2 separate regions of the Homo sapiens genome follow, and region 1 is linked to region 2. Evidence: fine-mapped expression QTL. A gene starts in region 2. The other region holds a variant in brackets. All regions are shown on one strand. Distances are from middle to middle.

The links. PIP is the estimated chance that this variant, and not a neighbour inherited with it, causes the effect.
Region 1: its variant is fine-mapped to the expression of LINC01933 in prefrontal cortex (CommonMind, PIP 0.95).

The regions. Positions count from the first base shown.
Region 1 is chr5:151,800,233-151,812,821 of GRCh38, forward strand. It overlaps G3BP1 (G3BP stress granule assembly factor 1), which reads left to right. Exons shown (of 12, transcript NM_005754.3): 10 at 1-114; 11 at 528-637; 12 at 3,653-12,553. The coding sequence ends at 3,859. Among named protein-coding and RNA genes, the nearest start is that of G3BP1, 35 kb to the left of the region's middle. The variant A/AT (reference allele first, on the strand shown) is at 4,153.
Region 2 is chr5:151,953,735-151,966,324 of GRCh38, forward strand. It overlaps LINC01933 (long intergenic non-protein coding RNA 1933), which reads left to right and starts at 5,164. Exons shown (of 3, transcript NR_109876.1): 1 at 5,164-5,220.

The sequences.
Region 1 (12,589 bases), 150 kb before region 2:
AGCAAGGTGACATTGAACCCCGAAGAATGGTGAGACACCCTGACAGTCACCAACTCTTCATTGGCAACCTGCCTCATGAAGTGGACAAATCAGAGCTTAAAGATTTCTTTCAAAGTAGGTTATTGAGTTTTGAACACTAAATTCATCTAGTGTCTCTCTAGCACTGTCCAGTAGCAATAGAAAATGAGCCACATATGTAATTATAAATTTTCTAGTAGTCATGGTTAAAAAAAAAAAGGTAAAAAGAAACTGGATAATTTTAATAACATTTAACTTAAGGCATTGTCATTTCAACATGTAAGAATATTGTGAGAGATATTTTACACTTTTTCATAATCTTTGAAATCCAAATGTGCCTCCCATAATTTTACACTTATGAGAGGCACATCTCAATTCAGACTAGCTATATTTATAATTCAAGTGCTCAGTAGTCACATGCATCTAGTGGCTACTGTATTGGACTGTGTACATGTAATGTTTAAAGATAATGGTCTAAGTAGTTATCTGAGAATGTGTTTCACTTGCAGGTTATGGAAACGTGGTGGAGTTGCGCATTAACAGTGGTGGGAAATTACCCAATTTTGGTTTTGTTGTGTTTGATGATTCTGAGCCTGTTCAGAAAGTCCTTAGCAACAGGGTAAGCAGCTTTTTGTCTTGATTTTTTTTTTTTTTTTTTAAAAAGGGTTTTGGTTCTTTAGAATATATCTTTACAGCTGGGTCTTTATGTAAAGTGCAGTTTATTCCAACATGTTCAGGTAATTTATTCATTATTTTCAACCATTATTAAAAGACTTGCCTGGGGGTTTAGGAAAACAAACCTTATGTTTAAGTAACTTAGTTTTTGAAAACATGAATTATGAGAATGAGAAAATGAATAGTTATCAGTGCACTGAGATTTACGTAACTACCTTTCCTTGGTGGTGGCTTTTGGTATACAGGAGATGAAATACAAACCTACTTCTAACTATTAACTAAGATAAGAGCCAGTTTGCCCAGGACAGTTTTGGTATACTGCTGTTTTTAGAGAATAACTATTAAGAGCTTCTTCTTTAAGTTAATAAATTGGATTTGGAAGATAAATTATATAGTCAACCTACTTGGAACCATCCTTACTAACAGTACTCTTACTCTGTACGTTCTAATAATAGAAGAATTTGTAGAATGGAAATCTTACTGTGGGATCCCCAAAGAAAGCTTCCCTTCCTCTAGCAAAAAACTACTTTTTGTAGTAGTAGAGAAGAACAAGTGTATAAATAATATTAATTTACTAAGCTATACTTTTTTATTGAGGTGAAATTTACATAACAAAATTAACCATTTAAAAATGTACAACTTAATTGCATTTAGAACACATTATTGTGCAACCATTACCTTTAATTCCAAAAGTTTTTTACTAAAAGCCATAAGCTCTTTACTCACTAAGCAGTCATTCCTTGTACCTGTCTCCCAACCCCTGGCAGCCACTAATCTGCTTTCTGTCCCTATGAATTAAAATTGTGTACTTTAAACCATATAATAAAAATACTGCAGATCAGTGATATTCTCCAGAATGTTAATGGGCATACTGCAAAGTTTTTTATTTTTTTATTTTTTTTTTTTTGAGACAGTGTCTCTCTCTGCCACCCAGGCTGGAGTGCAATGGTGTGATCTTGGCTCACTGCAACCTCCACATCCTGGGTTCAAGCAGTTCTCCTGCCTCAACTTCCTGAGTAGCTGGGATTACAGGCACCCGCCACCATGCCCAGCTGATTTTTTTGTATTTTTAGTAGACATGGGGCTTCCCCATGTTAACCAGGCTGATCTCGAACTCCTGACCTCAGGTGATCCGCTGACCTTGGCCTCCCAAAGTGCTGGGATTATAGGTGCGAGCCAATGCACCTGGCCTTACTGCATAGTTTAATGTTGTGGTTATAACATGTCAACCTGAGTATGCAAATATACATTATCTTTCAAATTATTTGACCATTTATTTTTGTGAAGCATCTCCTGCAAAATACTGTTTGAGAAATGAGAGAACAGTGGTTTATCTCACCAAAGCCACTGAAGAACCCAGAAATGTCCAGTAGGCTTTGTAGATAAATCCATCATTCAGCATGTATTAGGCCTAGTGGCCACCCTTCATTTCATGGTATTGATAGAAGTCTACTATGCTCCCTTCACTAATTTTTTGTGTGAGCAGAAATAGCTTATGTAAGACTGATTGCCGTGGTGTATGACATACTGTAGTGTAGCTTACCGTTTCAAAGCTTATTTTTCCCTGGAGGCCTTGGTTTGTATTCTCCTTTCATCACTCATTAGTGTTGTGACCCATGGGACAAGTTACTTAACCTCCCCGGCCCTTAGTTTGCTAGTCCTTAAAGTAGGTATCTACCATCAGAGGGTTGTTGTAAAGGTTAAGTGAGCTAATAAATTTGAATAGAGCTGGGCACAGTGGCTCACGCCTGTAATCCCAGCACTTTGGGAGGCCGAGGCGGGCGGATCACGAGGTCAGGAGATTGAGACCATCCTGGCTAACACGGTGAAACCCCGTCTCTACTAAAAATACAAAAAATTAGCTGGGTGTGGTGGCGGACGCCTGTAGTCCCAGCTACTCGGGAGACTGAGGCAGGAGAATGGCGTGAATCTGGGAGGCGGAGCTTGCAGTGAGCCGAGATCGCGCCACTGCACTCCAGCCTGGGCAGCAGAGCGAGACTCCATCTCAAAAAATAAATAAATAAATAAATTTGAATAGAACACTTCCGCGACACATAGTAAGTACTCTTAGATACTCATTTTAAGAAATTAGAAAATTACATTGCTGGTGAAGAGCATAAATTGAATATATTGAAATGTTTCGTAGCCCCTTAACTACTTTGGCTCTGTTAGGAGGAAACGAAGGCCAAGACTATCCAAAATTCTCAGGAGGTGTTAAAGAGCAAATTAAAGTTTATGTCAAATTAATGAAGTTTTTATTTTAAATGTATATGTACTTTGCATAAATATGTACAGTACCATCTTTTCACACTGGTGATGATGAGGTTTTATTCTAAGCCTCCAAATCTATGGAGAAGGTGGCAATTTTTTTTATTTTTTATTTTTTATTGGGACGGAGTCTCACTCTGTCGCCCATGCTGGAGTGCAGTGGCACGACCTTGGCTCACCACAACTTCCGCCACCCGGGTTCAAGTTGCACTCCAGTCTGGGTGACGAGTGAAACTCTGTCTCATTAAAAAAACAAACAAAAAACTGAACTGTGAGAACTTAGCTGATTTATAATCTGCTGGTTCTTTTTTTTTTCTGAGTCGGAGTCTCGCTCTTTTTCCCAGACTGGAGTACAATGGCGTGATCTTGGCTCACTGCAACCTCCGCCTCCTGGGTTCAAGCAATTCTCCTGCCTCAGCCTCCTTGAATAGCTGGAACTACAGGCGTGTGTCACCATGTCTGGCTAATTTTTGTGTTTTTTTAGTAGAGACGGGGTTTCACCATGTTGGTCAGGCTGGTCTTGAACTCCTGACCTCGTAATCCACCCGTCTCGGCCTCCCAAAGTGCTGGGATTACAGGCATGAGTCACCGTGCCCAGCCTCTGCTGGTTCATTATTACAGCTTTCTTTATCTTTGATAGTGATAGCCAGCTCATCAGTACTCTTAAGTCTGGTCACCTTGATTCTTACAGCCCATCATGTTCAGAGGTGAGGTCCGTCTGAATGTCGAAGAGAAGAAGACTCGAGCTGCCAGGGAAGGCGACCGACGAGATAATCGCCTTCGGGGACCTGGAGGCCCTCGAGGTGGGCTGGGTGGTGGAATGAGAGGCCCTCCCCGTGGAGGCATGGTGCAGAAACCAGGATTTGGAGTGGGAAGGGGGCTTGCGCCACGGCAGTGAATCTTCATGGATCTTCATGCAGCCATACAAACCCTGGTTCCAACAGAATGGTGAATTTTCGACAGCCTTTGGTATCTTGGAGTATGACCCCAGTCTGTTATAAACTGCTTAAGTTTGTATAATTTTACTTTTTTTGTGTGTTAATGGTGTGTGCTCCCTCTCCCTCTCTTCCCTTTCCTGACCTTTAGTCTTTCACTTCCAATTTTGTGGAATGATATTTTAGGAATAACGGACTTTTAAAGAAGCAAAAAAAAAGACTGAATTTCCTTGCTTACTTTGCATATACAGACTGG[A/AT]TTTTTTTTTTTTTTTTACAGCCATTTCCCCAAAGGAATGTCTTGCATATTACTGACATTTGGTATGTTTCATTCATTGGAATATTTCTTATTTTCTACGTGTTTGAAAAGCCTGTAAGAAATACAGGATTTGATAATATTTTGAAGGCAGGAAAAACCCAAATTGTTTCTTCTTTGAGAGTCATGACTACCTTCTGGTGTGGAGAAATTGCCATTGGAAAATTTGACAATTTTGATTCTCACTGGTATGTTTAAAAACTGAATAAAAGGAATAGAATTTTTTTTTGATAAAGGATCACAAAACAATTCTAAAACCTAACTGTTTTTACCATTGAAATTTAAATTGTGATAATAGGTTTTAAATGTCTAGAATGCAACTGATAGGCTTTTCTTGAACTGTTAGTTTTTTTGAAGTAGTTTTTTCATGTTTAATTTGTATTTGTAAAAAAACAAAAAGCAAAAAAATTCCCAAAACCCAGATAACAACCAGAGCAAAACTGTTGTGCCTTCTATTTATCTTTGATTTCAGTCTTGGCAATTGTTTAAAAAAAAAATCTAGATTTGTTTTATTAGGTTCAGAGTATGTGGGGAATTATAGAATCCCTCTTTCATCACTTTGTGTATGTCTTTTGTTAACATATTTGTTATGCCTTATTCTAAAATTGAGTCTCAAACTGGAATGCCTTTGAAGACAGATGCTTCTATAGAGGTTCTTTGACCTAAATAGTTCAGCATTTGTATTTTTATTCTGGTATCTAATCAGATTCCTAATCATAGCCCGTAAGAAGGAATGTTACTTTAATATTGGACTTTGCTCATGTGCTCGTGTCCGCATTTTTTTTTTTCTTAAAATCATAGCCATATGGTAAATTTTCTATTTTGTTATGGTTCTCTTTTATTGATGGGCATGCAGTGGGTGTTACTTGGAAATGGCCAATTTTTATTAAAATATTTCTGGAAGAAAATTTAATCTGGCAATATAGACTAATACTCGTTTCACATATGTGTTATTTGTTGAGTGCTGTGTGTGAGATGGGTGAAGGTTTTGTTTACACGTGTGAAACAAACTTTTGTGTGATTGTCATTACTAATTGAAGGGCAACCAGGTTGTAAAATTCAGCGTATTTATTTTCTTAACAGTATTCATCTTTAGGACTGTCGTTTGAGGATAGCATAGGAATATTTGGTTTGCATTACTGAGAAACTCTAGGTTTGCTGTGATGGTTAAGACCACAGTGAAGTTGGTATTACCAGTTTGGTTCCAGTTCCTCAAATATTTGAAAATTGGCAGCATCTCCTTTACATAAACTTAATGTAACTGAATCACATGGCTTTTTTGTAGGGTTAAAGTAACTTTGGTAACCACTTTTGGCCCAGATCACTGATAATAGGAAGAAATACAACTTATACTTTTGTAGCTTATATTAAGCATGTGGTGGGTGGAAAGAAAAGTTTAGTCTGAGTCACTTTGGAAAAAAAAATTACTTTGTGGTAACTTCAAGGTCATAAATTATGGATAGCCTAGAAATTATCCTTCATGAGTGAATACTAAATTATACATTTCAAAACAGAAGTTCTTCCTACTTGGAGACTTAAGGGCATTAACTAGATGCAGCAATCCTCAGCTTGGTGTTATCACATACTAGAGGACATTTGGAAATGTGTGAAATTTGGAAGGGTTGTTGGAGAGACATGCATCTGGCATTTATTGGGTGGGGTCTAAGGATACCAAATGTTGTGTAAAAATGAAGCAACCCCATTGAGAACACTGATAGTCCCTATTCCTGTGGGTGGGTGGAGCTGTGGGATTAGGAAAACTGGAATGAAGACTCATTCTTTTGAAACTCAGCCTCAGATAAATAACAAACTAGGAAATGGAAATCTGTTTCAAGAATTGCAGTAACATCTACTCTAAGGAATTAGTAATTTCACTTTTTATTATTTGTACCAAATGTATGTGTGTGTTGTGTATGTTGGTGTAAATGTGGAGAGGTGGTAGCAATACATACTGATGCTGCTTGTAATTTGTTGCAGGGAATTACTGCACAATCTCAGAAAATAGAAAGCTTCCCCAGTGCTTTCTGTCATCAGAGTTGGGATGATTGTGAGGTTTTGAATGATAGTATTGGACCTAAGAAATAGGATTAGCATCATGATCAGAACTGTTGAGAATCCTTGTACAATTATGTACATTATTGCATGTAGAGTAAACCTGAGAGCTTAGAGATGTATACGTTTCCACTGCTGGAAAATCATTATAAGTTAGGGCAACATTTTCTATAGGTGGCAGCAGTAGGAGCTCATCACATTGAACATTTTCAGATTTTAAAATGAAAATTTTCATCCGTAGGAATGGCCCAATGTATAGTTATTAGCTACTGAGCTTAGAACTCTTGACCCATGAGATTTTTTTTTTAAATTTTTATTTTTATAGAGGCAAGGTCTTGCTATGTTGTCAGGCTGGTCTCAAGCTCCTGGCCTCATCAGTTCTCCTGCCTTCCAAGTAGCCGGAACTACAGGTGTGCACCATTGCACCTGGCCTCATGAGTATTTTAGTTAGATAAGATTTGTTTGGTTCAGTGGGTCTTAGTTTTTTAAGACCTGTTAATTTGTAATTAGACATCTTGGGCCTTAAACTGTATTTTTGTTTTAGTGGTGAGGTTGGGTTTTACTTTGTGTATTCCAGCGTTCTCAACTTTGTCAGATATTGCTAGGGACCAGTGAGATAGATAATCCAAAAATAATAATTTGACTTTGGTTGAGTATGTCATTACCACAGTGTTAGTTGAATTGCACTTTAGGTTAGAAAAGTTAATTTTCACATCTGTGCTGCGGGTTAGGTGATATTGTCCTCAGCACAATAGATGAGGAAGAAACTGAATCAGAACAGTTAAATGACAGGCTTCCAAGTCATCCATGTAGCAAGGAGCACATTTGCCTCCCAAACTGATGCTTTTTCTCTAGAACCATAATGCCCCCCTAATTACATTTCAGTAGCATAGACCGCAATGAACTTCCTACTGTAGGGAGACTTGAGTCTGGAATACATTCAGAACAAGGTTAACATTACAGTTCTTAATTTCCTTTAGGGCAAACAAGATAATTAAACTTGGGTTTTGTGAGTCTTTTTTTGATTTGCAGATTATATATGGTAACACAATAATGGTGGTTTGTTTTTAAGTTTTTTCTCATCAGGTTTGATAATTTAATGCAAACTTCAAATCTGGATGTGAATAATAATATTTTTATTATAGTATAATCCAGGTGAGTTTATAGAATTTGTGTTTTGTGCTTATAAACTGTCACCTTCTGATACTTTTCTTCATCCCTCTATTTGAAAAACCCTTGTAGAATTTAACGATTTAATGGAAAATGTTGCACTTTATAGAAGGCCATTTTAGAACTTACAGGTAACCTTTTTGAAGAGCTTAGATTTGTAGACCACTGTTTATGCTGAGTGACATTTCTTTTAAATGGTTGCATTTGTCAAATCTATAAAGATGTTTTTTATATTGCAGTTTTCTTTTTGTGCTACTTAAAGGAATCTTTGCAATGCTGCATATAGATAATTGTTGACCTTTTTAGTTCAGCAGTTTTTAAACTTGAAGTAACATCAGCATTTATTTGAATATCAGGTTTTAGCTAACTGCCTAATGTACCAAAAAAAAATTAGCAATGTCTTATGTGGGATGAGGGGTTAAGTTAAAGTTGCTGATCAAGTAATGGCCGTGTGGCACAAGATGATAACTAAGAATTTCTGGTTCTAAGGTAGTAATGCCTTTTGGGATTTATATTTGTTTAATGTTGAGATTCTGGGGACCATAGGTGGGCCTGTCAACTCTTAACAGACTATAGTAAAGGAGAGATGGTGGCACATGTGAGATAAAACTTGTTTATATTTACATTCTTATTAGTGGATAGATATCACCTCAGTACAACACTGAAATTAAACTGCCTTGTTCATGCTTTCATGTCTCAAATCAAGGCCTAAATGAGTAAAAAGATGATTACAGATTACCTAAAACCCTTAACCAGTTTTGGTTTTTGATTATGCATATGTGTTGGCTTGCAATTAGGTTTTTAGTTTCTGTTTATGTGACTTGTTTGAAAACATTGGATTCGTCTTCTCTCCACAGTTTCTACTTGAACCTAGTAGCTTATTTTAATTCCCTGTAAGAGGAAAATAATATAGGGAATCTGTTCAACTATTCCTTTAATAAATCATGTGACTTGGCCAATTACAGAAATTCCTAAGTGTAGTATTTTGAAATGTGGCCAGTGTCCCAGATTTGTAAGGTACAGTGTGCATACAGTGTGTCTTAGGATTTTTTTAAGTAAATTAAGGATGTTTACCAGAAATTATTGATTTACTGAACCAAGTATTTATTTTCAGAAGCCCACTTTTGGGGAAGGTTGCCTATATTTTTGATAGTAATTAGATGGAAGATTAAATCCTGTTTAACCTGGATAGAAACAGTTTTAACTATTGCTGAAGTTAAAATCACTTTGGGGTGGGGTGGGGTGGCTCATGCCTGTAATCCCAGTGCTGTGGGAGGCTGAGGCCAGAGGATTGCTCGAGGCCAGGAATTTGAGACCAGCTTGGGCAACATAGCAAGACCCTGTCTCTACAGATAATTGAAAAGTGAGCCAGATGTGGTGGCGCATTCCTATAGTCTCCGTCTCTCAGGAGGCTGAGGCAGGAGATTGCTTGAGCCCAGGAGTTGGAGGCTGCAGTGAGTTATGATCATACCACTGCACTCTAACCTGGGTGACAGAGTGAGACCCTGTCTCTAAAAAACAAAAAATTAGAAAACAACAAAAACCACTTCGGTTACTCACTGTCCTCATGCTTTGATGTCAGTTGTTCTCCTAAATTTTAAAATTTTGTTATGAAGATTGGATGTACACTGATTTGGCCCTTTAAATGACATTATACCAAGAAGTTGGTATAAGGGAGTAGGAGATGAGAAAACTTTTTGAAAAATCATTTGGTGCATGCTAAGGTAGCTTGTAGGACATGTGGTTTTAAAAAATTCATGGATTTTGAAGAAGGATAGGGTGGAAGTAAAATTTAGCTGATAGCATAGGGATCATTTGTGATTTATATAGAAAATAATTATATTTTTGAGTGAGAAGCATCAGACTTAAATTTTTTTCTTCTATTTTGGTTATTACCAAAAGGAACAGAGAAACTCTCAGAATTCTTTGAATCATAGAATGTTAGTGCTGGAAAGGACTAGGAAGTGACTTGTACAACCCCTTCATTTTACAAAGGATCAGAGAGAATTGGTTAGTAGAGTCCCAAATCTGCTTTTAGAAGTAATATGGTGATCATCAGTTTAGATTCACTGTAGGAAGGGCAGCCCTGTTAAAGTTTGTCAGGAGAAAAAGGGAAGGTATCACTTTTTGTATGTTCACCCAGTTGCTTCTGTAGTTTTCATACCCCTGTTTTCTCAATTTTCTTAGAACTGTCTTTAATGGCCCAGCTCTACCAGGGCTTGTTGTCTAAGGACATTAACTTGTGCTCCCCTCAGGGATGGGTTTACTACTAGCTGTCAGAAAGCTATTGGGTATCCTAATGTGTTAATAGCTGAAACTCAGCTGTAATTTCTCCTAAATACTTCAGCATTTTGCATTCTGTACATTGTGGTGCTTTTTCCACCTTGTATTGTTGTAACTGTAAGCTCCTAGGGGGCAGCAATTTGGTCTTAGGCGTGTACCCTGTTTAGTGCCTGGCAATGCCATGTTTATATCAAGGTCTTAATATTACTTTTGAGTTATTTCTCCCACTCTTCATGGAAGTGATGCTCCAGCCTTGCTAAAACACTGAGGGTCCTCCCGATAAGCCAGGCATTGTGATTCCTTGGCTTCAAGTGCCTTCTGTCTTCCCCGAAGGTCCACTGAGATCTACAATCCCCCCTTTCCTCTGATCTCTTGCCATGTAAGTAATTTTTTAAAAGATCAGTACAAGAGCTATATTTTTTCCTAAGAAAAAATTTCAACAGGAATGGGGAGTAGCCCCGTTTTGGGGCTGATCTGTCCAGAATTTGGAGTGAGGAACAAATCCATTCTCATCTACTTTCCACATTTTCCCTCTTGTTTGAGGTCCTGTTCCAACCTTCATTTCTGAAACTGTTCTAGAGCACTTTGTCTTTCTCGTAGTTCATAACTTACCCCTTCAGTCTAGAATTAGAATTACATTATCTGTTTTACTACTTTACTAGACTGTAAGCTCCTAGAAGATAAGGACTAGGGAGTTCATCTCTGTATTCCACCAGAAGGTACAGTGACTCATAACTAGAGTCTTTAGATGAAACTTACTGAGTTGAATAACTTAATATATTTCTGTTTTCATTCCCAAGGGAGGCCATGTCTGGAGATAGACCTTGAATTTAATAAATTTTAGGCACTATACCATTTCAGTGGAGAAAATTGTTGGGAAATTTGGGGGGATGGATATATAAGGGGGAGGAAGTCACTGGCCAGTTTGAGGTGCTTCCATTGGTCTGGGTAACTAGCCATTTCTTCCTGATTGTGCCTAGTATATCCCAGACAGTTTGTTTCTATGCAGAAGAATTTTATATGAAATTTTCATTTCTTTGCAAAAACTTGTTCCTTCTTTCAGTTCATGACATCATCCATGCTAAAGTCTGAGTCATCTGCTTCCATTTTTGTTATTCCCCACATCCAGTCTTCAGCTAAGTCCTGTCAGTTCTACCTCAAGTCTTTCCCGTCTTTCTTCCTCACCTATGTAATTTCAGTAGTCTCTCAGCTTCACTTAACCTCTTACTCCAGCCTACTTTATACACAATGTTAGATTCATCTTACTGAAACATAGTTCTGACCATGTATTCCATGTATGTGTTCTCTCTCCCCTATTAGACTGTAAGCTCCTTATGGGCAGGATCTGTGTCTGAGTCATCTTTGTATCTTGCCTAGCACCTATCAATAAATACTTCTTGAATGAACAAATGAATTCTCATTTCTCGACATAAAGCCTTGTCTAAAGTGAGATGTTTTCCAGGTCATACATAGGTTTCTCCCTGGGGTAATTGGAAGTTCTTGCATATAAAGTTGGTTAAATAGTAATAATTATGAGTTAACCACAGAAAATTTCAGAAAACTTTAATTTTTTTCCATTGGAATCAGCATGGATATGTGTATATGGATGGTTCAATAAATATACTTTTATATACATGTTTCACAGAAATTTTACATTCCATCTTCAAACTGCAGAAATAGATTTTTTTTTTTTACAAGCCAAAAAATAACTGCCATAACTTTTGTGACTTCATGCAAAAAAAGGGGGGAAGAGTAAGGGGCAAAAGGGAATTAGTTGTTCAAGGTTGAGTGTCCAGTAAGAAGTAAAAATGTTACATTAAGGAAGCGATTGCTTAACACGCTGCTTAAGGTGGTAGCCAGACAAATCCTTAACTGCAGCATTAAGGCCATACCAAGTTTATACATATATACAAAGAAATTTCCATATAAAAGACATACTATCACATTTTCTTCTTCATAAGGATGAGGAACTTTGTAATTCTGACCTGATTTTCCAGGCCAATTAATTAAAATGTCCCCAGGCTGCTTTTTAGAAGTATCTTCTACTTTGGCTAGCTGTCAGAGTTGCCGCTATGTGAGCTTGTGACTTCTGGTCTGGCGTGAAAGTATGAATCATCTTGAACCTCTTCCATCATAGCACTATGTTGCTGAGCTAATTCATGCTGCCCAGCTAAGCACATTTTCTACATCCCCAAAGTATTTGGAATCACAGCATTGTAACTTGTGATTGTCTTACCTGTAACAGACTCCACAGTCATGCTGGCATTGTGACCTGAAGAATTACACAGTGCCCTTCTTAGATTCTTTGGGGTTAAGGTAACTTCTTGAATAATGTACTAATGAACGATAGTGTTTCAGGAAACATGCCCTAGCTATTGGAAGTTCGTATCTAACTTTTACCCCTTGTGTGTCATGATACATTTAAGTTGGTAGCTACATTTTTGGAATAAAGGAAATGTAAAATTATTTGCAGAATAATAACCTGGGATTTGCTCTTCTGCCTAAACATCGAACTAGGGAACTTTAAAGACAAAGGGTGCATCTTTTGTGCAAGTATCTAAGCGGGCAAAATGGGGAAAACATGAAGGGCAAGTCCTTTGGGGATGACTTCTAATTAATGCAGAAGTCATTTGCTTTGGCCAGGTTGGGTGGGACTCTGAGATTGCACACTCTTGCCCTGTTGGCAGAAACTAGCCCATCTTAAGTTAGTCAATGAATCCTGAGTCAAAATGAAAGGTTGCTAAATCTAAGATCGAGTGTATAAATAAAATAACCCCTTCCTCCAGTGACTGTGCATTTATTTTGTAATAAACTCATTTTGGAATGTTTTAGCAATGAATTGGTATCTCTCTGTTGTCCTGTTCATCGCCAGTTT
Region 2 (12,590 bases):
AGGACATAGGTTGGGGACAGGAGGGGTGAGAGGAACTGAAATGAATGGGGAATGTCCCATGGATATTGTGGCCTCCATACTGCCCCTTACTTGGAATTTGTAGCTACACTTTCTTTGGTTGATCCTGGTCTCCCTCATTGCATGAACCTCAGAAGCTTCAAATTGTAACAGTGTATGATTCCTTTGTACCTCTTTCCAGTCTAGATCTAATTACTACAAGCTGTTGGGACTTCAGCATGATGACAGAGGATTTTCTAGGATTATGCTCAACATGTGACATTCAATTACTGTGCCTCAGGAGGGTGGAGGTTAGCTAGGCAGGGAACTGGTAAGGATGGATGGGATTTCCAGATATGGATGTCAAGGGGCTCAATTTCTGGGGACGCTAGAGTCATGCTGCCTAAACTTTAGTGCCAGCTTGTTAAAAAGAAAATGCTGGAATCACAAATCTGACCATAGGTTTCAGTATGTCTAGGAAAGAACCCAGGAGTTAGCATTTTTAACAACCTCAGTATTTAAAAGGATTAAATAAAGACTGCTCTGGTGGAAACAGGCATGGATTTAGTCCATTCAGCATAACCGCTTGCTTCTCTCATCAGACTTTGGGATGTCTGCCTCCTGACATCCATGCACAGCCCCAGGCTTTCATAAAACCACTTTGAAAACCACTGGGCGGGGTGATGGCTGAAGTTTCTTCCCACTCTGACATTCAGTGATTCTGGGTTTGATCATGTGGAAGGGCCATGATAGTGCTCTCATCCTCGCCAATACTGCCACATGACTCAGGCCCGGCCAGCAGAACTCTCCCTCCCCTCATTCACAGTGAAAGGTTCAGAGGAGAGCTTGTAGCCCAGTTCAAGCTTGAGTCTCCTCTAAGAGGAGTAAGAGCCTCTTCTCTTACTATCTCAGTGTTGTAAGAGAGAGGATCTTGCTTGTCTTCTCAGATGAACATGAACACAGACCCAAATGCTAGGTAGCTCTCTTCTAATGAACTTACAGGAGTGAGAATGCTGTAAGGCACCTCATCCTGCTGAGAAGAAATCTAACTTAAATGCATGTCTGCTGATGGGGTGAGGGGGTGGGGTGGAGCTTTTCACATTCCTACTTTGAACAATGCATGGTGCTGGGTGTTATGGAGTAAGGTAGACACAACTCCTTCTTCAAGGAACTTATTTATTTGGGGAGATTCTGACATATGAAAAATCAATGAATTAACAATATATGGCAGTATGGAGTGCAAAATTGATGCCATAAACAGAGAAGAGACTTTTGAGGAATACACTCATAAAGCTTGAAGAATGGATTGAATTTATTATTACTGTTCATAAAAAGGGATATATCATACATATATATACATATGCACACATAGTTGTTTATTAGAAAACACAGGTGCTGTGTCTTTTACAGAGATTTAATTCACATAGTATAAGAGGAAATCTATTAGGGCACATCACTGAGAATTTCAGGGATCATTCCAGCTTTAGTCATGGCTGGATCCTGAAGATCAATGTCATTAGGGCTCTCTCTTCACTTCCTGGCTCTGTTTTCTGATCTGTCTTGCCTTCATTCTAAGAAAGGATTTCTCCATATACTGGAAGCAGCATAATAAATCTCCCAATAATTCTTGGCTAATTATGGTCTTTTTAGCTTAACATCCCAGAGGACAAGCAAGCTCCTCTTCCTTACAATGCTCAGATAGTAAGTCTTAGAGGAGACGCAAGCTCCTCTGGGCCATGAGCTCTCCTCTGAACCATTCACTGTGCACGAGGGGAGGGAGGGCTCTGCTGGCCTAGCCTGAGTCATGTGGCAGTATTGGTGGGGATGAGAGCACTATCATCGCCCTGCCACAACTGTTTGGGTGGAATGGATTGTTCCTCAAAGGACAAGTAGGAGGCAGGCATGCAAATTCAATAGCTTTCTTCCCAAAACATGGAAATAAGAAAGAACAAAAATCACAGGTAATCTAACACAGAGGAGGTGCACACACACACACACACACACACACTCATAACACACACATACACACTTGTGTGTATCCAGAAAGATGTTCATGCTACTTTAAGTGAAAAACTATAATAGAAACAGTTTATACAACAATATCTCATTAAAACTTTTAGTGCATTTATTTTATTTGAATTTGCATAAATATGTGTGTTGAAAATATGAAACTGAAATGTACTATTTATTGTATAGAGTTTTCCCCTTGACAATCATGAACATAATTCCTTGTCATTAAATAACATCCTATGCTACTCTTCTCAGGCCTGTGTTGTGTTAGGTGGTTGTAGAGTGATTTGGCTGATACCTGGATTCATTTAGGAAAGCTGGGCAGCATTACTAGAGCAGGCGTTGGGATCTGCTGTCCCTGCTTACTGGTACTTTAGGTCAGAGGATGTCTATCTGGCATCTCCTTTCTGGGTCCTTTCCAAGTCTATCTGGCATCTCCTTTTCGGGTCCTTTCCAAAGGGACCCAGCCACTCAGTCCCAAGCAAGCTTCGGGAGTTGAGTGGGACCTTTAAGCAGGAGTGTATCGTCTACTTTTGAAATAGGAATCTCAAGGCCCAGGCATTTATATATAGCCTTTGTTTCAGCAGCCCCATGTGTAGCTGGCATTTCTGGGGTCAAGGCAGAAAAGATCAGGGACAAGTAAAAGCTGCAGGAATTTATTGAAGGAAAGTAGGTTGTTTCAAAGCTGAGGTTTGGATTTGGGCTTGATAGTAAACTAGCATGACTCCAGAGAAGCTGCGTGCACACCAAGGCTGCTGTTGTCTCATCTCCCTGGTGGAACTGTTGCAGATGAAGCACCTGCAGATGACATGGACGAGGGGAGGGAAGCACATTCAGGCTGAGATGATTGCCTTTGCAGTGGCCTCACTGACAGCGCTGCAGCTCCAGTGGAAGGTCTCTCGGGCACTTTGTTGGCCTAGTGGAGGGCACAGTTTTGGTGAGTCCCCCTGCTTCACTTCTGGGGAAGACTGACCTATTCACTAAGACGCTCTACCCAACACACACAGTGAGGCACTTAGAGAAACTGGGGTGCTTCTTCTCAACCTCAGAGTAGTGCCTTCCAAACTAAAAAAATGTAAAGAAGAGAAGAAAAAATAATAGGTAGGAGGTGGGTCCCTTTCTTTAAAGGAAATTGTACTTGGGTAGAAGAACACAGGGTTGCTGGTAAAGGCCCTGTGGGTAAGTCTACCTGGGTGTGACTCCTGCTCCACTTCCTGCTGGATGGCTTTGAACAAGCGACTTAACCTTTCTCACCCTCAGTTTCCTCATCTCTATAATGGGAAAAAGACTAACAGCTACCTCACAGTCTCTTGGGAGTATTAAGTACGATGATGCACATTAAAAATACTCACATATAACCTGGTATTAAGTGCTCAATAAATGTTAGCTGACACTATTAACAGATTTTAGGGAAAAACACAGACTTGCCTTGATTGGAGCAGAGGTAAGAATCCTGCCTTTTCTTGTCACTGTCACATTTTTGGAGTCTTAGGGATCTAAGGAGTTTGAAAGTTACTTTGTAGAACATTGTATATTATACACATATAGTTACACATGGAAAGAGGAACAAGCCATACTAGCATGTCATATTAGAAATTGTAGCTTGGGCAACATAATGAGAGCCTGACTGTACAAAGAAAAAAATAAAAAAAAATTAGCTGGATGTGGTGGCACATGCTTGTAGTCCCAGCTACTCAGGAAGCTGAGGTGGGAGGATCGCTGGAGCCTGGAAGGTTGAGGCTGCAGTGAGCTGTGATCAACCACTATGCTTTGGCCTGGGTGACAGAGTGAGACCCTGTCGAAAAAAATAAATAAAAGTGCACTAAACTGGAACTATGAGTCCTGCATTCTAGTCTTGATTCTGTAATAAACTCACTTCAAGGCTTTGAGTCACTTCACTTCTCTGGGCCTCAGTTTTCCCATTTCAAAAATGGACTGTTAGGTAGCTGGTCTTTAGACTATATCCTGGTGAACTGAGGTTTCAGAGAGGTGCTGGTGATTGCTAGGGGATTGGAGGAGATTATAGGATTACACTAATTATAACCAGCTTTGCTAGCTGCTTTCTGAGGGTTCTTGCATCTCTTGTATAGTACAACACGAGACTAGGAATCCAAGAGGCAATTCTGCTTTCTTATCATAGCATTGTTATGATGGTGGCTTGTATAATCTCATTTTAAAGATGAACCACATCAGACTCAAAGGGCTCAAGCAGTAGGCCCAAAGACCAGTAGCTGGTGCCAAGCCTTGATATGTATTCTGGAAAAACACTCCTATTCCAGTGCTCATTTCACCCCATTGCTTTACCTTTTGTAACTCCTGGACACTGCATTTTATAAAATGGAGCTGACACAGGCTGGGTGAATTCAGTCTTCCTGATAAGCCACCCATCTTAAAATAACACCATCTCACTGTGCTCACATCTCAGATACATTTGTCACAAAAGGAGGGCAGATAGACATCCAGCCTTCATTTGACCTTTAAATCACCTCCTTTTTATCAGCTGTGGCTGATCAGCTGCTCTTTTTGAGAGCAGGTGGGTCGACATAAGATTGATTGGTTTTCTCTGCAGGGGAGTAACTTGGCCCTTTCCAACCCTCTGACCTGCAGAGGCCCTCTGAGCTCTGAGATCCTCGGCAAGAAACAAGAACATAGATTAACAAGGCAGAATGAGGGGCCTCTGTGCCTGGATGCAGGACAAGAAGAGAATAACCAGTGAGAACTCGGAAAGAAGACCAGCCCTTGGGACTTGCACAAGTCCTTTAGTTTATCCTGTCCCCAAATCCTAGGGTGTTTGTGACAATCAAATAAGAAGTTACGTAAGTAGATAGAAACTTGTCAGCCCAGTATGGGCCAATGCAGGAAGTTTTGGACTTGGAAGACATTGTGTTGTGGGGGAAAAAGTGTGAGCTTTGGATCCAGTACCAAAGATGGGTTTGAATCTCAGCCCTGTCCCCACCCAAAGCTCATCTGGAATTGTAGCTCCCACAATTCCCACATGTTGTGGGAGGGACCCGGTGGGAGGTAATTGAATCATGGGGCGTGTCTTTTCTGTGCTGTTCTCGTGATAGTGAATAAGTCTCATGAGATCTGATGGTTTTATAAGGGGGAGTTTTCCTGCACAAGATCTCTCTTTGCCTTCTGCCAGCAGCGTAAGATGTAACTTGCTCCTCACCTTCCACCGTGATTGTGAGGCCTCCCCAGCCATGTGGAACTGTGAGTCCATTAAACCTCTTTCCTGCATAAATTACCCAGTCTTGGGTATGTCTTTCTTAGCAGCGTGAAAACGGACTAATACACCTGGCACTGACAGGAAAAAAAAAGGTTAAGACAGTTGTGAACCCTTGAGCAGGTCACTAAACTCCTCTGTGGCTCAGTTTCTTCATCCGGAAAAAGGAAATTATAATGCTGAACGTGTAGGATTATCATTAAGTGTTAGGGTAATCAACTTGCCTGGAGCGTATCTCATAGTCAGTGCTTAAAATGGTAGTTTTTGTTACTGACATGGAAATGATTGATAAAACAAAGGCCTCAGGGCTTATAAGGAGCAGTGATTATTTTATTGGTGAACAGGATGTTCTATTCCTGTTGGACCAACTGATAACAGTCACTTCATGAAGAAAAAAGGATTTCGAGTGGGATAGAACACTGGAGTTTTCTTTGGTGGTTTTGTCTGGTGGGATCTATTTAATTGCATTCTGCTTAGAACCAACTAATTGTTGAACAATTCAGCTGATCACACACTAGCTAAGAAGGCCATGTGTGAAAAATATCTAGAGAGGTCCTAGCTATTTGGGAGCAAGTCCATCATAAGCCAATATGTGACCCGGCTGCTGATACAGATGAGCCGCTCTTGGAGTGCATTAACAGAAGTAGCAAGCCTAGAATAAGGGAGGAGATGGTCCTTCTGCATTCTCTTCTGGCTGGGATACACTTGGAAATATGGGTTCAGTTCTCTAAGAATCTCATTGTCAAACCTGAGTGTGTTCTGAAGAATGTGAGTAAGAGAGGAAGGAGCTGAAGACCTTGCCATATGGAGAACAAGGAAAAGGATGAGAGAGGCTTTTCCCCTGGAGGTAAGAATGTTCACGGTGATCAATGACTTTAAACTTCTGAAGGGCTGCCATAGGGAAGGAGGAGATGATGGAACACACTGTGGGTGAGTGGAGGTGGGGTCAGAGTCTATCAAGCTTGCCCAACCTGCCTTATTTTTATTGTTGTTCTGTTTTGTTTTGTTTTAGACTTTTAGCAGCCTGAAAGCCATGGTTTTTAGTTTCTGTCTCTAGTGATAAGTGAAAAAGAGGGATGAGGGAGGGGTTTTGGTGGCCTAACCAGAATCAGAAACTAAGAACCCATAATTGTATTTTCTCCCTTGGACACCCCTGGAGGTCTTTTGGACAAAGTTACAAGGAGGAATATTCAATTCGGGAAGATGCTGAATTGGGCCACCTTGTGAGGTAGTAAATCTCCTGGCAGCTGAGATATTCAACCAGAGGCTAGCCAAAGTAAAGCAGTATGTGGTGTGGAGGTTGTGGGAACAGGATTTGATGTTAAATCTGGGTTTAAATACTGGCTGTGCTGTGTGGGCAAGAAGTAAACATCTCTGGATGTACTTGCCTTAGCGGTGAAATGGAGACAGAGCTTACACTACTGGATTGTGAGGGTTAAATGAGATAATATACGTAAAATCCTTAACAGTTGCTCTTAGTATTATTTTGGTTACTTATCAAGGATAAACTCACCAGGGTTTCCTTCCCACTCTACATTTCGGGGATGCTATGAATGAAACAGGCCACTGCATTTCTCCTTGATTGTTCTTTGTTCTCCACTTCAAACCAATTGCCGTTTCATTGCATTTTGTTAATAATATAATTCTAGAGAAAGCTGGCCTGCCATGACTGTTTTTTAGTGTTTCTTCCTCATTAATTTAGATCTTCTCCAGCTGATGAACATTTTTGCTTAGTAGAAGTTCATTAATTCTCCCCTCCCCGACTCATTCCAGCAATGCAATTTAAACAGCATTAATCCGGTATTTAGTGAGAAAATGGAGTTTTATACTAAGAAACATTCAGTTTGAGACAATCTTTTTTTCTTCTTAAACAACTTTTTTTGAAATCCTAATTTAATGACGAATTATCATCATTTGTGTTGGAAGAAGGTTTAAGAAGAGAGAGAATAATGGATGAGGGTTATGAAATTTTAGAGCCAGACGAACTCTCATCTGGCCTCTTGTTTTATACATGAGGACATGGGTCCCAGAAAGGTTGACTTATGGGCTCCAGGCCACTGAAGAGTGAATGGCAGAGCTGGGTTGTGAACCTCTTCTTGCCGTCCAAGCTACCTTCTGTCTGCTGGGGGGTGGCAGGCTTGGGTCATGTTCTCCCACTGTCTAGTTTGAGCTTGGCAAGTTTTTCAGCTGCAGTGAAGCTCAATTTTTTGATCTGTAAACTGCCCATGTAGTGATAGTTCCTCCCTTGTCAGTATTAGGGGTAGGTTAATGTAAGTAAAGCAATTACAAAATTGCTGGCACCTGGTAGGCATAGCGAGACTGTCGAATGAAGAGACAATAATTTAAGGTCATTACTGTTTATAGTTATAATTTACCTGAGTGCTTCTCATATGCTGGGCCTTTGCTGAGCTCTTCCAAACCACCCTTTGGATAATGGTTTGAAAGGGCTCTGGCTAGGATATCCACCCTATGAGGTATTAGAATGGTGCAAAAGTAACTGCTGTTTCTTCCATTACTTTCAATGGCAAAGGGCACAATTACTTTTGCACCAACTTAATAGAAAGTCTAACAAGTTTCTACTGTTATGAGAACTCTGGAACTTTTATTTCCCCATTCCTGTCTTGTTTGTTGCCCCCCAAACCTCAACCATTTCCTACAGGAATTAACAATGAAACCCTTAAAATGGAAAGTTCTCAGGGAACTGTTTTAGAACAGTGGAGTAGGCAGTTCCTGGGGAGATGCCTGTTATTCCACAGTGAGGGGTGAAGATAACTCACAGTATGGGGTGGGACTCGGCAGCTGTGAGAAGCCAGGGGAAGCGGGTGAATCACTGTGGGTACAGGAGGAGGAGTTTGACTAATCATACCTTATACCAGTGGTTCTCCACTGGAGACAGTTTTGTCCCCCAGGAGACATTTGACAATGTCTGAAGACATTTTTGGTTGTCATGGGGGATGGGTGATAGGTGAGTGTGATATTGCTGTCTGGTGGGTAGAGACCAGGGATACTGCCACACTCCCTAAAATGCACAGACCAGCCCCCAACAACAAAGAACTGTGGCCCAAAATGTCAACAGTGCTGAGGTTGAGATACCCTGCCTTACACACATCCTATGATTTGGTCTTTATGAAAAAGTATGAAGTATGAGGAAGGGAGCCGGTATTTAATAAGGGTAATAGGATCTCTTCTGTGCCAGGCATTACATTGGGCTGGAGTTGGGAAGACAGATTTTAACTGCCTGATAACTTGATCAGTGGGTAGGAGCCTCTTGGATCACTCTATTGACAAGGATTCTGACGCACAGCAGGAAAGAAGGCTGCAATCAATGGACTCCAGTGCTGGCACTTTTCAGCTGTGTAACCTTGAGCAGTTACTTAACCTTTCTGTGCCTCAGTTTTCATGTCTGTAAAATGCTGATGATAGGAGTATCTACCTTATTGAGTTGCCATGAGGATCAAATTAATTAATAATTTAAAGAGCTTTTTGAACTATGCCTGCCGTGCAGTTAGTTATCTTCATCCTCATTATCAGGAACAAAACAATCTTGCTGCGTATTTACCATCCTTGTTTTGTCAAATTATACACAAAGTCTCATATAAGTAGATATATTAGATATGTATAATTTAACATGTGTAATTTGCCCCATTTTTAGGATGAGGAAATTTTGTTTAAAATTGGGTAAGAGGACAGAGAACTGATCGAGAATGTTAAACTAGTGGGTGAGCTTTTATAGAGAGTGTTGTCCTAGTTCATGAAGTATTTCTTCAACCAGCTTTATCCCTTGCCTAACCCTGAAATGTGTATATCGACCCTTGGGGGCTGGTCTTCATTGCAAATTTGTATTGTTCAGTTTTTTCTTGAGCTGTGTTCTTGTTAGGCAATAAAGATTGCTTTGGCACTTTCTAATATGACCTGCCCATGGGACTTTCAGAAAAAGATAGGTGTGGAGTCAGACCAGGGGCTTACATACAGGCAATCCCCATATGGTAAGTTTTGTTTGTCTCTCACAATTTTTTGAAGTTTGAATTTGTGGCCAATGTTTATAAATCAAAACATAGCACATAAAAATGTAAGGTTCCAGTATTTCTGAAAATGAGAATATCTGGTTACATTGGACCCACATTAAAACATGGCAAAAATTGGCTGGGGTAGCCACTCTCCTCCCTTCAGATGCTGAACTTGCTAGTTTGCCCCACTCCCCACCCTGCCTCATTGCATTCTCAGTACTGAGGCTGAGCGGTAGCTGCCGTCTGTTCACTCACACTTGGCCTGCTTCACTTGTTCCTATTTCCTGTCTGCCCTGCAAGCACCAAGGGTTTGCAACTGCTTGCACAGAGCTGATTATGCTATCTCGTTACATTCAAAGCGCTTTCACACATGCTGACCTTCTGCTACCTGTGAAGAAGTCAGGGCAGGGATTATTGTGTCCACTTTCTAGATGTGAAAGTAGAGACTCAAAATTAAGCAATTTGCCCAGGATCCCACAGCAATTTTAATGCTGAGTTAGGATTAGAGTAGCTTGACGGCTCCTGAAGCTTTGGAATTGGTTTGTAACAGACTGTAAGAACTTGGAAACACGGTTTTATTCCAGGGTCCTCTAGTCTCACAGTTGTAAAAAGGAAGACTGTAGTTTCAAGACTTTGTGGATTTCTAAAATTTCTAAAAAATTGAGAGAACCCGACACATGTTGTCAACTTTGTTGTCAATTTTCATTTTGCCAGGTAAGAATATTAAATTCAAGATAGAAAGCTAATCATCACTATAATTTTATAAAATAAAGGATATGTTATAACTATAAAAGAAGGAAAAACTTAATCTCAGAATAAAGGATGGCCTATCTCAGGAAAAGTGTGCATACATTTGTATGCGTACATAGAAATATTATTAAACATTTCCTTTATTTTTTTTATGTCAACTTGGCACATCCAGGAAGTAGTACTTGGGGAATCACAGGATTGGGAAATCTTTAAGATTATTTTCAGCGTACTCATTCTAGATATTTTTGTTTGTTTTTGTTTCAATGTAACAGTTTTGTGACCCAGTCTCCAAACAAATCAGAATGCTGACAGGTGTCATGTAGGTCATTTGGGCACATGCCTTTCTGGTCTCCATTCTGCTCCTGCTTCCAGATCACCTGGCTTGGATAAGAGAAAACCAAATTACCTAGTCTTTGTGAAAAAATTATTTAGGCATTGGGAGTTAATTCCTGGCTCCAAGTGGAGCCTCCACCAAGTAAATCCATGCCAATGGCTCTCCACATAGGTGATGCCAAAGAAGCTGGATATATGGGGCCTGCGTTATCTCAGAAAGCACCAACTCTCCGAAAACTCTCTTGGAGAAATGGAGAAAGATAGAATGCAAACTAGAGGTCGGGAGATAAGTGGTTGAGTTCCAATTTTTCTAGGATTTTTTGTGTAACCTTGGACAAGCTATCTCCCCTCTCTGTGCCTGAATTTCCTTCTCTCTAATGCAAAGAGAGTAGATTAGATGATATTTAAGTTCCCTCCTACTTCTGACATGCTCCAATTCAACCTAATTCAATTCACAAAATCAAAATATAAGCAGGGAAGGCCCTGAAAGGTCATCTAGTAGGAGCACCTTTTTGTCGCCTGCTCTATTCAATTAAATGCAAATGAAAGGTACCCAGCCATAAGCTTCAAGGAACACCAGACTGTCCCTTTCATCCGTGAGAGCGGTGCTGTGATCTGAGAGAGGCAGGGCAGCTGAGCCGTGGAATAACCTGACTGCAGTTTTGCTGGGGTAGGAAATGGCCTCATTGTTTCATCTGAGTCCAACTTTGATCCTGGGCCTAGTGGCTCTCACAATAAGGGAGAGCCTTTTGCTATTGTATTTTTTATGACTCCAGTCCATCTTTCTATTTTCAGCTAGGAGCAAATTATGACAACCCCTGTGGGTGTATTTCCCTGCTAAAATTTTTCCTTTGGAATGTCTAGGGATAAGGGGTGCAAAGAGGGGTGTATGGACTCACAGGTTCTTAGCCTGTTAGGGGTGGGGACACACACAGAACCGATGCAGTTTGAAGCTTGACTCCTTCCAGGTGCTTTCCTATCCAATGTTGTTGTAGCCTGTGTTTGCATACTTACTGTGATGGGGCCCTCCACTACCTAAAGGAAGCACTTATACTTTGGCCTCTGTTGAGTGATGGTCTTTTTACTGAGTTGAAATCTCTTTCCTCTGCTTTTTACTCATTGTTTCTGGCCCTGCCCTCTGCAGCCGCTCAGAAGAATTTTGTTTCCTTCTCACTTGTTAAGTCAGCCCTGCATCTTTTCTCTTAGTTAAGCATTCTCTTCACCCTCAGCCATTTATCTCTCTTTTTTTTTTTTTTTTTTGAGATGGAGTCTTGCTCTGTTACCCAGGCTGGAGTGCAGTGGCGCGATCTCGGCTCACTGCAAGCTCCGCCTCCTGGGTTCACGCCATTCTCCTGCCTCAGCCTCCTGAGTAGCTGGGACTACTGGCGCCCGCCACCACGCCCGGCTAATTTTTTTTGTATTTTTAGTAGAGACGGGGTTTCAACGTGTTAGCCAGGATGGTCTCGATCTCCGGACCTTGTGATCCGCCCGCCTCGGCCTCCCAAAGTGCTGGGATTACAGGCATGAGCCATCGCGCCCGGCCAGCCATTTCTCTTATAATTTCCAGACCTCTCACCATCTAGATTATTATCCTTGGGCTTCATCCTAACTTATTCATTCATTTACTTATTCAACAAATATTTATATAGTACCTACCATGTGCCAGGCTTTGTGCTGCATACTGGTGATGGGGTGTTAAGCAAGACCTGATTCCTGGCCTCTGAGTACTATGGAGAAAACATTCATTGAGTAAATAATTCTGAAGCCCCACTTGGTGAGTTTGAACTCCAGCCCCACCATTTACCTTTTGGAGCTGTTCGGTAAGTTGTTTGACTTTTGTGGCCCAGAGTTCCCCTATCTGCTGAGTGGGGGAGGGGGGAGTAATAATAGCTACTTCATTAGGGTTGTTATTAGGAGTTAAAAATGAAAAGTACCTAGAACCAAAGTTGGCATGTCATAAACCCTGAGAAAATGTTAGCTGCTGTTACTACTACAGTACTACAACTACTACTACAATGGCAGAGAAAAAGATGCTCAGGTGCATGGACTGTGGAGTTGTGGAAGCATGGAATTCTCCTCTAAGGAAGTAGCATTTAAGCTGAGACATGTAGGGTGAACAGGAGTTGGCTCAGTGAAGAGAGAGAGGAGAGTGGTGAGCAGTCCAAGCAGAGGAAACAGCATGTGCAAAGGTCCTGAGGAAGGGAAGGTACTTGGCATGTGGTAGGAACAAAAGAAAGCCAGTACGGGTAGAGCTTAGTGAGGCAATG